Homo sapiens: one gene and its partners. The protein of the gene in region 3 interacts with the protein of the main gene of each other region in a pairwise test. Each region holds a gene or a part of one and is shown on either strand. Other genes may lie near its edges.

Region 1 (3,568 bases), about 98 Mb from region 3:
AGAGCATAATGTTAGCCCCACAGGTCATTTATTGTTGGTTAGTGGTTTTCACTGTTCTTATCACAATGATGATAATGATGTAGTGAATATGTCATAATTGTTCAAATAAGAAGATATGTCCTTTTCTCTGATACTATGCCTTTCTCATTTTTGGGTAAGATTCTTTTATGATTTGATAGGAATATTTTTATCTAGCCGCTGAATGGTCCATGAAATTGGTAAGTCTGGGAATCTGGGCCTGAGATGCAGGGAGGCCTGCCCTTGGGATTGAGTTGAGTCATGGAGGCCAGGCCAACATGTGGAGTTTGTGGGTCAGCTGATGGGGCCCCTGGGCTTTCCAGGAATATAGAGTCACCCAAGGTCCTAGGAACTGTGAATGAGCTAATTTTGAAAGTGCCCTAGGAGCCAGTGACTATTTTTGAATTATAGCTTGAGAATGACAAGGAAAGCACCAAGATGAAAGATGAGGGTGTAAGGGAACAGAATGGGCAAGTGGTTGAAGTGTGAATTTCAGCAGGTGAACCTCAAGATGTATCTTGACATTTGATTCTTTGCATGCAGGCCTCTTTCTGGCAAAACAACACTCTTTAGCAATTCTTAGTTAGTGATTCTAGGAAATGGTGATGGGTGAAAGCCATAGAACCTAGAATTGTGTAATAGCCAGCTTGGCCCAGACCTCTGCAGTATCATTCCCTCCAGGGTGAGCCTTGAATTGCTGGAGGAAGCTTCAGAATGATTTGCTCATGGAATTGCTGTTATTCACCTTTAGTTTTGGTTGCTATTGTGGGGTGAAGAAGGAGTGTCAAAACAATAACAACAAATTATTTCCTTTTTTTTTTTTTTTTTTTTTTTTTTTGAGACGGAGTCTCACTTGGTCGCCCAGGCTGGAATGCAGTGGCTTAATCTCGGCTCACTGCAACCTCCACCTTCCAGGTTCAAGCAGTTTTCCTGCCTCAGCTACCCAAGTAGTTGGAACTACAGGTGCCCGCCACTGTATCCGGCTAATTTTTGTATTTTTAGTAGAGGCTGGGGTTTCACCACTTTGGCCAAGCAGGTCTCGAACTCCTGACCTCAAGTGATCTGCCCGCCTCAGCCTCTCAAAGTGCTGGGATTACAGGTATGGGTCCTCTCCCTGGCAGCATCCTGCTTGCTCTTTGGTGCTGGCTCTGTTCTTACCTTCTGATCTTCCTTCTGTTTCTCAGGTAGACTTCTGTCCTGGGCAAGAGTCGACCTGCCACATTGAGTATCACAATTTGCTAGGTGGTATTGTTTGTCAGTGGAAGTGAATAAATCAGAATTTCCTTAGCATGAGTTAGGTTTCTTGAGTTGTTTCATTCCTGGGGGAACTAATACCGTTAAAATTTCCTTGACATTTCAAGAAATGATCATATACCACATTGCAAATTTTGAACACAGCAGAGGCATGATTTGGGTGTAGAGACACCTTGGGAAGCATTGATTCAGACTCAGATTCTTCAGATTATCTGATCAGAACCTCTTGTCCTCTCCAAGAACCAAGGTCTGTGTATACCTTTTCCAGGACACTGGTGAAGAGAGACATTCATTTGGTGACATCCAGAAACCTCGGCTTCATTTGTTCCTTCCTTTGTTCAGCAAATGCTTATTGAGTACATAGTTTGTGCCTGGCACTGTGCTAAGTTCAGGAGGACAGAGAGGAATGTACCAGAACATTGGTTATAGGGTGCTGCAGTAGAGGCATGTGTGTGATGGGAGTGGAGGGGAAGGAAGGCTGTCCTAATCCTGCGAGAGTGGCAAGAGCTGTGGCTAGTGACTCCTCATGTAAAATTCCCACTACAGCAAACCCTTCAGCTGCTTCCTTTGTCATCTTTCCTTAACTCAATTTTATTCCTGCCTACCACCCAGGATTTGCTACTCCTTTTGTAAGGGAACTCGGGATTTGGCCTTTCAAATCTCTGTGGCAGTAGTTCTTAAGCAGGACAGTTTTGCTCACTGGGGAACATTTGGCAGTGACATTTTGGTCATGGTGACTGTGGAGGGATAACTACTGGCATCTAGTAGGAAGAGGCTAAGAATGCTACTAAATATCCTACAACATGTGCAAGGATAGCCCTAGAAGGAGGCAGCAGGGGTTTAGTGGTCAAGTCCCAGTGCTGCTCTGCAATTTAATAGCCATATGACAAAGGGCAACAGAATTGTACTTTGACAACAGAATTACACAGTGCTCAGTTTGCTCATCTGCAAATAGGAATACTAATTGTGCTTATATAATATGATTGTTGTGAAGATTTCATCAGTGAATGTATAAGGGCAGAGAACAATACTTGATGTGAGATAAGACCTTACTTAACGAGTATTTTTATTTTTAGTTTTAAACAAAAACTTTACCTTTTGACTCTAAAGAGCTTGAGTTTAGAGTATCCAGGGCAGTTGAGCTTGTAGCCCTACCTGTAAGTATGCTTTGGTGTAGGAAATGGCCATAGTTTTTGTGTTTTTCTAGTTCCTTTTTGTCCGTTGGCTTTATTTCCCATTGTCTCATCTCTTGAGATTTTTAATAGCTTTGCCTTTCATCCCTTTTTTCCCAGGGACCCAAATTTATGCCCTTAATGAGCTTTTCCCTAGAGGGCTGAGAATTATATTTATGATTTTCCTTAGCTCTGTCTATTTTGGGAATGGTGAGAAAATGGGAAGCGGGTCAGGGGAGATGTTGCATTACTTCCTGATTGCCATAGCTCCCTTCTCTGTAAAATCCCGTGAAGGATTGAGAGGCAGGTGGTAGTGCTTGCTTAGTAACTCTTCCCTTTACACCCACCAGCTCCACTCCCAAGTTGGGTGCCTACTACTTCCAAAATACCCCGTAATTGGGTCACAACATTATCTGCCTGCTTGGAATCATATTTAAAAATCAAAGCAAAGATGCAGACTATGTCAGCAGGATTTGAAATGTTTCCATCCTCTGCTTTGAGGCTTTGCAGAATTATTCTGAAAACAAAAGAAGGTAAACTTGTTATCCCAATGAGGTGGCAGTTTCTATGTGGCCTAGAATTATGCCTAATTTTTGCTTGTAAAAGGGCTCAAACCATGATCCTTTCTGACTTTCCACAGGGATGTGAGCTTTTGTGGACATCACTCAACAGATCAGATTTACTGTTGAATTTTCATAACATAATTGACTTGGAAAGCATTTCATTCAGTGTTTTGAATGGTGACTAGAGAGAAATTAAGAAGCTCAGTTGTTATATCTTTCGAATTCCTTTCCCATGACACAGTCATCTCTCCCCTGAATGAGAGCAGTGGCCTCCTGGCTTATCCAGCTCTGTTCACTCAGTTTGGCTTCCCAAGTGCTGGGCACTGTTCCAGATGCCACACGTGGACACTGACCAGGATGGCCACTGCCTCTACCTGCTCGGAGCTCTGGGTCTATAGAGAAAGGCTGACAGCTAAGGAATGAATGACGGTACTATGTGATACGTATTACTGGGAGAAATACTCAGTGCTTCCCAGACGAGCACTTATCCTGCTTGGGTGTGGGGAGTGTGTGGGGCAAAGCTTCCAGGAGAAGGGATGCTAAGTCTATTCCACAGTGCAC
Region 2 (3,568 bases), on a different chromosome or scaffold from region 3:
TATCCAAGGATAATGGAAATAAAAGCAAATCAAAGTCAAAGAGGGCCAAAAGGAAATGCTCAGAATCCCGGCACCCCATCGCTGTGTTATTATCCATCTCCTATTTCCCATAACAACACTGCCTTCCTCAAGCAGCAGTGGAGCACCAGCAGAATGAAGGAGATGTCTCCTGCCATTCTCCTGAAAGCTCTAGGGTCTCTTTCAAACTGTTCAAAGGAACTCTACTCAAAATCCAACAACCTCTCCTCGCAAATCTCTCCATTCTTAGGTCCCCTTTAATAGGCTTTTCTCAAAACTACACATTTTGTGCTTCCCCTATTCACCTTTTTTTTTTTTTTTTTTTTAAGACAGAGTCTTGCTCTGTCACCTAGGCTGGAATGCAGTGGTGCAATCTCGGCTCACTGCAACCTCCATCTCCCAGGTTCAAGCGATTCTAGTGCCTCAGCCTCCCAAGTATCTAGGATTACAGTCATGTGCAATCATGCCTGGCTAATTTTTGTATTTTTAGTAGAGACGAGGTTTTGCCATGTTGCCCAGGCTGATCTCGAAGTCCTGAGCTCAGGCAATCCATCCGCCTTGGCCTCACAAAGTGCTAGGATTATAGGTGTGAGCCACTGCGTCCAGCCCCCTATTCACCTCTTAATACACAAACATTTATTCATCAGGAGCATAAAGAACTGTCTTTATTCATCCAACCTCCTAAATCTAGCTATATAACCATGTATCTGAACAATTCATTGATATGTACACAGCAGAAAGTTTTATCTTCAGAGAATTCGGATGTTTGCTTATATACCCTAAAACGGAAAAAATGTGACAAAATGGCATTCCATCCTATTTCCATTGTATTAATCTTTTATCATATGAATGAAAAAAACTAAGTAATTTTGTTAAAGGTTATCATTCATTTATTAGAAACATATTATTTGAAGGAGGCCAAGCAGGTTTAATGTTGTTGAGGATACATACCAGCAGACATTCACTGGGAACAGGAAATCATCCAATAAAAAGGGAAAGCCAAATAAAAATGTCATTAAATCCAGAAGATAATTATAATACTCATCTTTTATTTCTTTTGGAGAAACTGAAGCATGACTCTGCTCATGGCTGCAAAGAACCTTGGGTTCTCTCCAGGACACTGACCTCAGCAACTGAGCAAAGTTTAATATGGGAGAGAGCCAGACTGAACTTTGCTTGAGTGGTGGCAGATATGAGCATAGTTGTCAAGAAAGACATGTTAGCAAATAGCTGATGCCAATAACTGATTGCCATTCACATGTTTTCCACATTCCATGTCCCACATATACTTACAGAGAGAAAAGGATCAATTTTCTGATAAATAAAATAAACATGTAGGGCATACAGTCCAAGGTAGATATGTGAATGTTATGGTTCTTCAACTATCTAAAGATTATAATCAATCTTGAAATTACAGCTCCTATATTTAAGTAGTGAGGGAAGTAGGAAATCAAAGTCCCTCACATGGGTCTTTGAAAAATATCTCAGCCCTCAAAGCCTTATAATGCCCAATGGGTTCTCTCACTCATCTGTCTCTAACAGGACACAGTGGTGGCTCTCCATGCTCTGTCCAAATATGGAGCAGCCACATTTACCAGGACTGGGAAGGCTGCACAGGTGACTATCCAGTCTTCAGGGACATTTTCCAGCAAATTCCAAGTGGACAACAACAACCGCCTGTTACTGCAGCAGGTCTCATTGCCAGAGCTGCCTGGGGAATACAGCATGAAAGTGACAGGAGAAGGATGTGTCTACCTCCAGGTGAGACTCTTGGGCAGGTGAGGACAGGACAGATGAGGACAGCAGCTGTTCTCTCTGAGAAGTCCTAACTCAGAAAACAATGGGACAGATCAGAGAAAGGGTTAGGGACGTGGACAGGAATTCTGGGAAAGGGCAAAAAACTGATTTTGTCTTTGATGTTCTATAGACATCCTTGAAATACAATATTCTCCCAGAAAAGGAAGAGTTCCCCTTTGCTTTAGGAGTGCAGACTCTGCCTCAAACTTGTGATGAACCCAAAGCCCACACCAGCTTCCAAATCTCCCTAAGTGTCAGGTAAGACCTTCTGACTCTATCACCTAATCCTAAGAATAACCACCAGTCTTCTTTCGGGAACTCCTCTTTAAGTAAAGCAGTGCAACAGTAGATATTTGCACTATTCACAAAAAATGCAATGTATTCTCTTAAGTTGATATAATTTCTCAATGATGGGGTTTACATTGTCCATCCAGGATCTACTATTGTGCAACCTCATTGTTTAAAGGGTAATAATTTCCCTCAATAACAACTAAGTAAATATTACCCATTGCCTCTGACCTGAATTCCTTGTTATGTAATGAAATCCTATATTATTCTTGCTTTATTGAAGATAGAGATGAAGAATTATTGAAAAGTTTGAATAGAAGGAAGTAGTGACTCCTTAGTTAGAATTCCTACTGGCAATAATAAATCTCAGGTTATATATGATATAATTAATTTGGGGGGAAGATACACTTATATGCATCAATATTTAAATAGCTGCAGATCTGATAAAAAACTCTCTCTCCACAAACATATTATTACTTGGTTGGAGATACTATTCAGGAAAAAAGTTAGGACAAAATACATGTAACAAATAACTGGCACACATCAAAAAGAATGAGATCATGACCTTTGCAGGAACATGGATGGAGATGGAGGTCATTATCCTTGGCAAACTAGCACAGGAATGGAAAACCAAACACTGCATGTTCTCATTTGTAAGTGGGAGCTAAATGATGAGAACATATGGACACAAAAAGGAGAACAACAGACACCAGAGCCTACTTGAGGGTTAAGGATGGGAGGAGGGAGAAGATCAGAAAAAAACAACAATTCAGTGCAAAATTTAGTACCCAAGTGATAAAGTAATCTGTACACCAAACCCCCATGACACGAGTTTACCTATATAACAAACCTGCATGTGTACGCCTGAACCTAAAAGTTAAGTATATATATATATATTTTTTTCATTTAATTTGGTGTATATATATGCCAAAAAATAAATTAAGCAGTCCAAATTTCGGATGCAAACTCTCGGGGACAAGACGCTAGGTGTTTCTAAGTGTTTTGTTGAAAGCCAGTGTTTAAGTAAACATTATAAATTATTGTTGTTTTTGTAAATAATGTAGACTGAAATTTATTATTCATAATATACATCATTTTGTCAGCTGAAAGAAAATAAAAGTAAACAAATAAATAAAATAACTGGCATAGATTAGAGGTCACAAACAGCCTGTGCATCACTTGTAGAGCTTTCTTAAAATGCAGATCCTCAGCCGGGCGTGGTGGCTCACGCCTGTAATCTCAGCACTTTGGGAGGCCAAGGCGGGCAGATTACCTTAGGTCGGGAGTTCAAGACCAGCCTGACCAACATGGAGAAACCCCGTCTGTACTAAAAATACAAAATTAGTCGGACGTGGTGGTGCATGCCTGTAATCCCAGCTACTCGGGAGGCTGAGGCAGGAGAATCACTTGAACCCAGGAGGCGGAGGTTGCGGTGAGCCGAAATCATGCCATTGCACTCCAGCCT
Region 3 (4,314 bases):
TTAAACTAGTTAACTCTCTTTCTGAGTATCAAAAAACCAATCTGATCATTGGCTTGTACTCTTCTTATGAGAATATGTTAAATATAATTATAATTAGGTTCAGGACTATAACTTCTGAGAAACGTCTATTTACATAGCAAATGAACAAATATTGTGCCTGTTACATGCCAATAGAACTTTAAGCTAGAAGTATTATGTTCATGTCCTTTTTGTTTTTTAATTCATGACCACCAGTAAATCCCTGGACATTCCCACCCACCACCTGGTGGTGGCATTTGCTAAAGGGAATAATTGCCACCTCCCTCAGAGGGTTGCAGTGAAAATTAAAAGAGATAATAGATGTGAAAGTGCTTTATAATCTTTCAAGTGCCAAACACACATAAGGGATTATTATAGTAGGAAATGGTGTCTTCCAAAGAGTAATCATTTAGACAATGTTATAAACGTAATAAATTATTGGTTTCCATATTCAAACCATGACAAGTTCTTGTAGCCACGATGAGACGGAAAACTAATAATTTAGTATTTTTAGTTGATGTGTTTTTTTGTTTTGTTTGTTTTGTTTTGTTTTTGGGGTTTTTGTTTTGTTTTGTTTTGCTTTTGAGACAGGGTCTTGCTCTGTCACCCAGGCTTGAATGTAGTGGCATGATCTCGGCTCACTGCGACCTCCGCCTCCCGGGTTCAAGCGATTCTCCTGCCTTAGCGTCCCGAGTAGCTGGGATTACAGGCCCGCGCCACCACTCCCGGCTAATTTTTTGTATTTTTAGTAGAAACGGGGTTTCACCATGTTGCCCAGGCTGCTCTCCAACTCCTGACCTCAAGTGATCCGCCTGCCTCGGCCTCCCAAAGTGCTGGGATTATAAACGTGAGCCACTGTGCCCGGCCGCTGATGTGGAAATATTAATTTCACATCCCATAGAGGAATATACAGTGTTTTTGATATTTTAAAGTCGTTTTAACAGTGAGCTGTCTAGAAATTCAACCATTGTCTGCAGATTTTCTTACGATTCTGAGCATCACCCAGTGCGCTAATGGAAGGCTGAGGCTACCCCTTCGCTCTTCTCATTTTTAAGAAACTTCCAGCTATCCTTCCCTCTCCTAGGAAAGCTAACGGAATGCAGGAGATAAAATGGTTTCAGATTACATCCAGCGTGATAAACTGTGTCCTTGTCTTAATCTCGTCCAATTCCCAAAACATTTCCAGCTTGCTGTGAGGAGTTACATTCAGTGGTACAGAATGAGCCAGGCAGGCGACGGCGACTTGTAGGTTCCCCATCCCTTTTCTGAGATGCCGCGGTCAGCTCTAGAGACCTCAGGGATAGCAACAGAGCTGGAGATGGGTTAGGGGAGGATGGTGAGGACTACAAAGGTCTCCCCACCTCCCGGGGGCCGCGGAGGCGGGGCTGGATGAAGGTCGACGTGCCTCCTCCGGGCGGGGCGCTGCCAGGCTCTCAGCCTCTCTGTGGAAGGGCAGCCTGCGCCTGGGTACCGAGGCTGCTGCGCGGCGGACAGCGGGCGCGATGTATCTCCGCAGGGCGGTCTCCAAGACTCTGGCGCTGCCGCTGAGGGCGCCCCCCAACCCCGCGCCGCTCGGAAAGGACGGTGAGTAAGGAGGTCTAGCCCGGAGAGGAGGACGGGCGCCTCGGGTGCAGATTTCGCCCGCGCCAGGGAACCGGCCGGCACCCAGTTGGCCAAACCCGACCCAGAGCAGCAGAAGCCTGGATTGGAGGTCGAGGAGACTGGGGGAGACTCCCGGGAAGACGTCCCGAAGCTCCTGCAGACTTTGGAAGTAGGGAACTTTTCCAGGGTGCCTCAGAGTCCAGATTATCTGGGTTCGCATCCTGATCTTGGACAAATGGCTTAACCTGTTTCCTCATCTATAAAATGAGGGCGATGATGGTTTTCCTTTTTAATGAGTTAATGTATGGTTAAAAGCACTTAAAAACGTGCCTGGCTGACAAAGTCGCAGCTTACCACTTTTATTGTTAGAGGCACCATTCGCTCTCCAATCTCCTGAGGAAGCAGAGGAACGGTGGGAAGGTGGACGCCGATCAGCGAGCGGGCCCGGCAAGCGCTGGGAGGCAGTGAGGCAGGGCCCGCTCAGTGGACGCTGGGCGAATGTTCGTGGGGTAAATAAACCTAACCCTTGGCAGGGTCTCAGCAGCCTGAACCCCGCGAGCGCCTGGCTCTGAGATCCACAACCCCCAAAAAGGAAGCGGCCTTCGGGACACTTTCCTTTGAGGTTGCACGTCGTCCTGCAACTGCTTGGCTCTGTAGTCCAAATATCGACACCTTTGGTTCTGAGGATACGCGAGAAAAAGCAGAATACTCAGCAATTAACTAAAGGGGGAGTTGCAGTGTGAACTGGAGGCTTATTAAATAAAAACGGACATATAGGAAAGCGCTTCGTATAGTGCTGGGAACATAGTAGGTGCTTAATAGGTGTGAGCAAGGAAGATTGTTTTTCTTCTGGGACCAGGCTTGCGCTCCAGGGCGGTTCTGCCCCAGCCGCTTTTCCCTAGTCCCCATCCGTCACCCCTCTCTCTTCCACTCACGACTGGGGGACGGCTCTTAGACAATATCGTGAAGGGTTCTTAATGCTCTCTTCACTTAGCCTCACTTTCTGAGCCTTCCGAGATAATTTTACCCCAGAGGGTGGATTCCAGCAGGAGAGAAAGATGTGCGCGGAGAATTCCATGGGCCGATTTTTTTTTCACGTTGATTAGGCCTCTGTTGGTGGTGGTGGGAGGGAAGGACGGAGGTCTAACTAACTCGCTTTATTTTTCTTGTAAAATGCTGGTGGAAGGAAGTTATCCCTCAAGTATCAGAAATAAGACATCTTCGTTTTCCTAGATCTTTATTGCCTTTATTTTTCTAGATCTTTATACCAAATGATATAGAGCTTTTAAATATATATATACACTGATGAAGTAGGGAGAAGCCATTTATTTTAAACTTCGGAAGATAACGGGACTGTTCTGTTGAGAACGGGGAGAAAGATTAGTCCTCTGACCGTGGCCTTTCGTTTTATCTGTCTGCGTTCCCCACCGACATCATGCGCGCGTGCACGCACACACAAACACACACACACACACGCGCACCTTTTTTTTGTAGCTGCAGAAATTCCAAATAATTTTCTTCCCAATTTGCGGCAAAATAGAAGTAGTTTAAAAATTTTAAATACGTATCTAGCAATGCTGCTTGTAAAGGTACTGGTCTTTCTCTGATTTTCATCTAACTATTTTTGCAGCACTTAAAATGTATTTAAGAACTATTATTGATTGGAAACAAATTTGTCTTCAGTCGTGGACATTACTTAACCTTTTGTTCATACTTTCTACTTTGATGAAAAATAATTTTTTTCAGTTTTATTGAAGGAAAAATTTTTAACTGTGTCTCATCACATTTTGTTCTCTCCTTTTTGCTTTTAAAAGGGTAATTTTATTTTTTTGAGACAGAGTTTCACTCTTGTTGCTCAGGCTGGAGTGCAATGGCGTGATCTCGGCTCACCACAACCTCCGCCTCCCGGATCCAAGTGATTCTCCTGCCTCAGCCTCCGGAGTAGCTGGGATTACAGGCACGGGCCACCACACCCAGCTAATTTTGCATTTTTAGTAGAGATGGGGTTTCTCCATGTTGGTCAGGCTGGTCTTGAACTCCCAACCTAAGGTGATCCACCTACCTCGGCCTCCCAAAGTGCTGGGATTACAGGTGTGAGCCACCGAGCCCAGCCTTAAAAGGGTAACTTTTTAATGAATAAATAATTTAGATTTATAATAGATAATTGGGGAAAAACAGGTAAAATAAAAAATGGAATTCACCTGTAATCCTACCACTCAGTGAACACAACTAATTACGTTTTAGTATATTTAGTTTTCCAGACCTTTTTTTTCCCCTCATTCCTTCCTTGTGCACATTATTTCCACAAATCTTGGATAGTCCCAGAGTATTTTGCTATGACTTTTCACCTAATACATTGTAAATATTTTCTCATGTAAGTAAATATTGTTCTGCAAAAGTTATGTCTATTTGTTTCACATTGTATGAATGTGCTAAAATTTGTCTAATTAATCCTTATTGAAAAATTTCTCATTTCATTGTCTTTTTAAGTAACTTGTCCATCATTGTATTTGTATTTAAGTCTACTTAAATCTCTGGTAATTTTAGTTCTATTTAAAAAATATTTCTGATATTTTTGTCTGTTTGAGAAATATGAAGGCTATATATTCCCTATTTGATCACAGATGTACTTTTAAGCCATCAGAAGTCCCACCACAAGTCAAAGCGATAACCTCTTCTCATAGCCTTTGGGGC
Region 4 (3,568 bases), on a different chromosome or scaffold from region 3:
TTTTTTGTATTTTAGTAGAGACGGGGTTTCACCATGTTGGCCGGGATGGTCTCTCGATCTCCTGACCTCGTGATCTGCCTGCCTTGGCCTCCCAAAGTGCTGGGATTACAGGCATGAGCCACCGTGCCCAGCCTATTATTGAATTTTTTAAAAATAGCCTAGTGTGTGACTAGTTGAAGGGTACAATATTATTCAGCTGTATTATGCATATTATATACTGATGCAATCACTATACAGTCTAAGTAAAATAAACAGCAAAGGGCTAGAGTGAGGAATGAAATCTAATCTGTTTCCATTGAGCTAGTAGTAAGGGAGACTTGAAAGTTGTACAAGTAGACCTAGGGGAGTCTTTCTTGAAAACAAGGCATAATAATGCCTCCTTTATCTGCCTTTACTAGGAAAGATGGGTAACCAGAGTAGTGAATTTTGTAAAATAATGAAAACTTATGCCTTTAAGCCCCTAATTTCTTTTTATGTTTTACTCTTGGGAAAACCAAATGTAATTTAAAAAAATGGCTCAGAGCCATTGTTATTTTACTCAGCATTACAGGGACTTGAGAATGTAGAGGCCCATTTGTCTCCATTACATGGCTGCAGAATGCTTTTATTGTTTCTTTCTGATTTTATTTTTTGCTTCTTTTGGTTTCCTCTGCTGTTTATCAAATCTTTCTGCTTTATGTCTATCTGCTGGTTTATAATTTGCTGCCTAAATTTATGTGTAATATAAAACTTTTCCCCTACTCAGTTCTTCCGGCAAGTCGGATCTTGTGCCAACTTATTTGTTCTTCTAGCTTAATACCAAGCCTCATTTCCACTGTTGCAATCCCACTCCCCAATGCTGGGACCTCCTCTCATTGCCTGCTTCTTAAAACTCCCTAATTCTCTGTCCTGCCCCGCTATGCCTTATGTTGCTTTCCCACTCCTGATTGAGGTACATTACTGAGAAAAAAATTCTTGCTTTTGGTATTTTGATAAAGGTACTCTACGGAAGAACTGGAAAATAAAATAGGATGGGATTGAGAGGGAAGATCTCCTCTATAATTCAAAGGAAATTCCCAGTTTTCCTTTGAAAAACTCTTTTATCAGAAGCAGCAGATACTGTTGTGCTTCAGTGTGAGGATGGCAGCGCAGTGCCCCTGTGATACTGGAGAGGGCATGCTTGATGCGCACAAAGAAAGAGAGATGGGGAGATAACTTGGGTTCAGTGGGTATCTCATGCTCTGACAGAGTGCTTCAGGAAATGGTTAGACAGTAACGGCACACTGAGTAGAAGAAAATTATTTTCATGGATTTAAACATTTGTCCTCCTTGAAGAATTTGGGCTTGGCCTGATGGATCTTCCCCAGAAAGCAATTAGACATTGTTTTTCCTGCTCTCATTCACTTTCCTAGGAAGGAAATGGTATGCTCTTCTGGAGAGAAGCCCCAGGGCCCAGTACCAGAAAGCAGCCAGAGCCACTAGCCATTACTTGGACCTTTTGGGAAGCATTTGAAAATGTACTATTTAGGGTTATTAGCCTGAGGTTCTTGGACCCCTAAAGCATTAGTTCTTAAACTTTTTGGTCTCTATACCCCTTTGTCTTTGAGGATACCAGAGAGCATTTGTTTATGTGGATCATAGCTATCAATATTTACCATTTAGAAAGCAAAACTGAGAAAACTTAAAATATTAGCCTGGTTAAGCACAATCCCACTAGCTGTCAGAGTGATAGAGTCATGTTTCCTGTAGCCTCTGGAAACTTCTACTGTACACTTGAGAGAGAATAAGAGTGAAAAAGTAATTAACGTCTTAGTATTTCTATAAAAATATCTTTGTAGATCCCCCAAACATGTTTTAGGAAAACCCAGGGATCCTCAGACCATAGTGTGAGAACTGTTGCGCTTAGGGGTTTATGAATAGAATTCAGGAGATTTGAGATCTTGGATAGGGAATAATTGTATCTCTATTTAAAGGAATTATTTCCTTCCATTAGCAATGTAGGCACAATCCATGGCAATATCAGGAGTGCTTCTGGCTTTGATAACCAATAGAACTCACAGATATGTTCATGGTTAAGTTATTGCAGATATCTTAATATTTTGAAATTGTGATAGTTATTAGACCTGACATTTTTTAGGGACAGTTTGACAGCCAGAGATAGGAAGAGATTCTGAAGGGACATAGCCCTGACCTTTGGGTTGCATCCTTCACTTTTATTCTTTTTCGATAGTCTATGAAATGAAAATCCTTTGAAAATGTTATGATGGTATAATCAAAGAGAACATTACATTAGGAATCAGATGACTTTAGTTCTAGCTCTGCCTCTAATTAGCTGTGGGATCTTGGGAGAAATTTTCAGCCCTTGTATCTGAGTGTACATGTTAACTCCTGCAGCACTTCTCCAGCTCAAGTAATCTATATAATAATTGGAAATTTTGGAATGTATTCATTGTAATTTATTAAACACCTACTACATGTCAAACATTATACTAGGCACTGGGGATTTAACAGAGAGCAGTACATGGTCCCTGCCCTCAAGGACTCTACAGTTTGGATTTTAACTAGCAAATAAGGATGTATGTAGAACCCACTTTCCAGAGATAATTGTTAGAAATTCCTGGGGAAAGTGCACCTGCGATATTTGAGCAAAGGCCTTTCCTGTTCCATATAGATTGTCATTCACATTCACATGTGTCAGTAGGGTCACTCTTGATGTTGGTTGGCACCTAGAAAAGAGTAGCCCCTGATTATCTTTCCATAATGAGCCCTCATTCAATTAACCAAACTTTATTGAGGGCCTCAAGTGTGTGGAGAACTGTGCTAGACTCTGGATTGCAGGTTCCTTTCCCTGAAGACAGTCATGGGGAAAAAAGATGCAATGAATTACAGTGTGATAAGGGCTGTAACAGAGTGTGTGTAATGTGTTATGGATGTATAGAAGAAGGCACATGTGAGCCAGTCAGATGTTGGCAGTTGTAGGAGGTTAGGGAATGCTTCATGGAATAAATGGCATAAATAACTGGGCCTTGAGGGCTGAGTGCAGTTTGCAAGGTGAAGAAATGAGAGAATACCAATGTGATTATGGTTTGGGATCTTGTCTGGTGCATCAGGCCATTTCAAACTTTGAATGAATGTCTGAGGTGAGGAGACAGTGTTTTTTGAATATACAGATATGTTGAAAATGTTAATGATGAGTGGATAGTGTTTTTGTTTTGCTTTTGAGTGTAACAACTCATGTGTAACTTTTTCTTCAATATTTGTGTGTGTGTATTTTAGAAAGAACACCCAGGTTAATGCCTGATAAAGAAAGCATGTATTACCCACGGGTACAACATTACCGAGAGCTGCTTGACTCCTTGCCAATGGATGCCTATACACATGGCTGCATTTTACATCCTGAGTTAACTGTGGACTCCATGATCCCGGCTTATGCAACTACAAGGATTCGTAGTATGTAAACATTTTAAAGACCTGGAATTCTGTCTGACACTTTCTTTTAATTCATTTTGAGACCTAGCATGTCTCATGGTCACTAAAAGAAGATTGGGAATAGGGTTGTTGAGTTTGCTTCATGGATGTGCATGTTATG

What was found.
Region 1: the proteins of MGARP (region 3) and APBB2 interact in binary tests that used the Homo sapiens proteins (3 or more experiments, as listed by UniProt).
Region 2: the proteins of MGARP (region 3) and A2M interact in binary tests that used the Homo sapiens proteins (3 or more experiments, as listed by UniProt).
Region 4: the proteins of MGARP (region 3) and GDAP1 interact in binary tests that used the Homo sapiens proteins (3 or more experiments, as listed by UniProt).

The regions. Positions count from the first base shown.
Region 1 is NC_000004.12:41,204,487-41,208,054, reverse strand, and holds part of APBB2 (amyloid beta precursor protein binding family B member 2), read left to right. Parts: intron 1-3,568. UniProt on the Homo sapiens protein: Plays a role in the maintenance of lens transparency, and may also play a role in muscle cell strength. Involved in hippocampal neurite branching and neuromuscular junction formation, as a result plays a role in spatial memory functioning.
Region 2 is NC_000012.12:9,070,864-9,074,431, reverse strand, and holds part of A2M (alpha-2-macroglobulin isoform a precursor), read left to right. Parts: intron 1-1,560; coding exon 1,561-1,779; intron 1,780-1,945; coding exon 1,946-2,073; intron 2,074-3,568. UniProt on the Homo sapiens protein: Is able to inhibit all four classes of proteinases by a unique 'trapping' mechanism. This protein has a peptide stretch, called the 'bait region' which contains specific cleavage sites for different proteinases.
Region 3 is NC_000004.12:139,277,365-139,281,678, reverse strand, and holds the start of MGARP (protein MGARP), read left to right. Parts: upstream 1-1,453; 5' UTR 1,454-1,520; coding exon 1,521-1,602; intron 1,603-4,314. UniProt on the Homo sapiens protein: Plays a role in the trafficking of mitochondria along microtubules. Regulates the kinesin-mediated axonal transport of mitochondria to nerve terminals along microtubules during hypoxia.
Region 4 is NC_000008.11:74,356,882-74,360,449, forward strand, and holds part of GDAP1 (ganglioside-induced differentiation-associated protein 1), read left to right. Parts: intron 1-3,255; coding exon 3,256-3,429; intron 3,430-3,568. UniProt on the Homo sapiens protein: Regulates the mitochondrial network by promoting mitochondrial fission.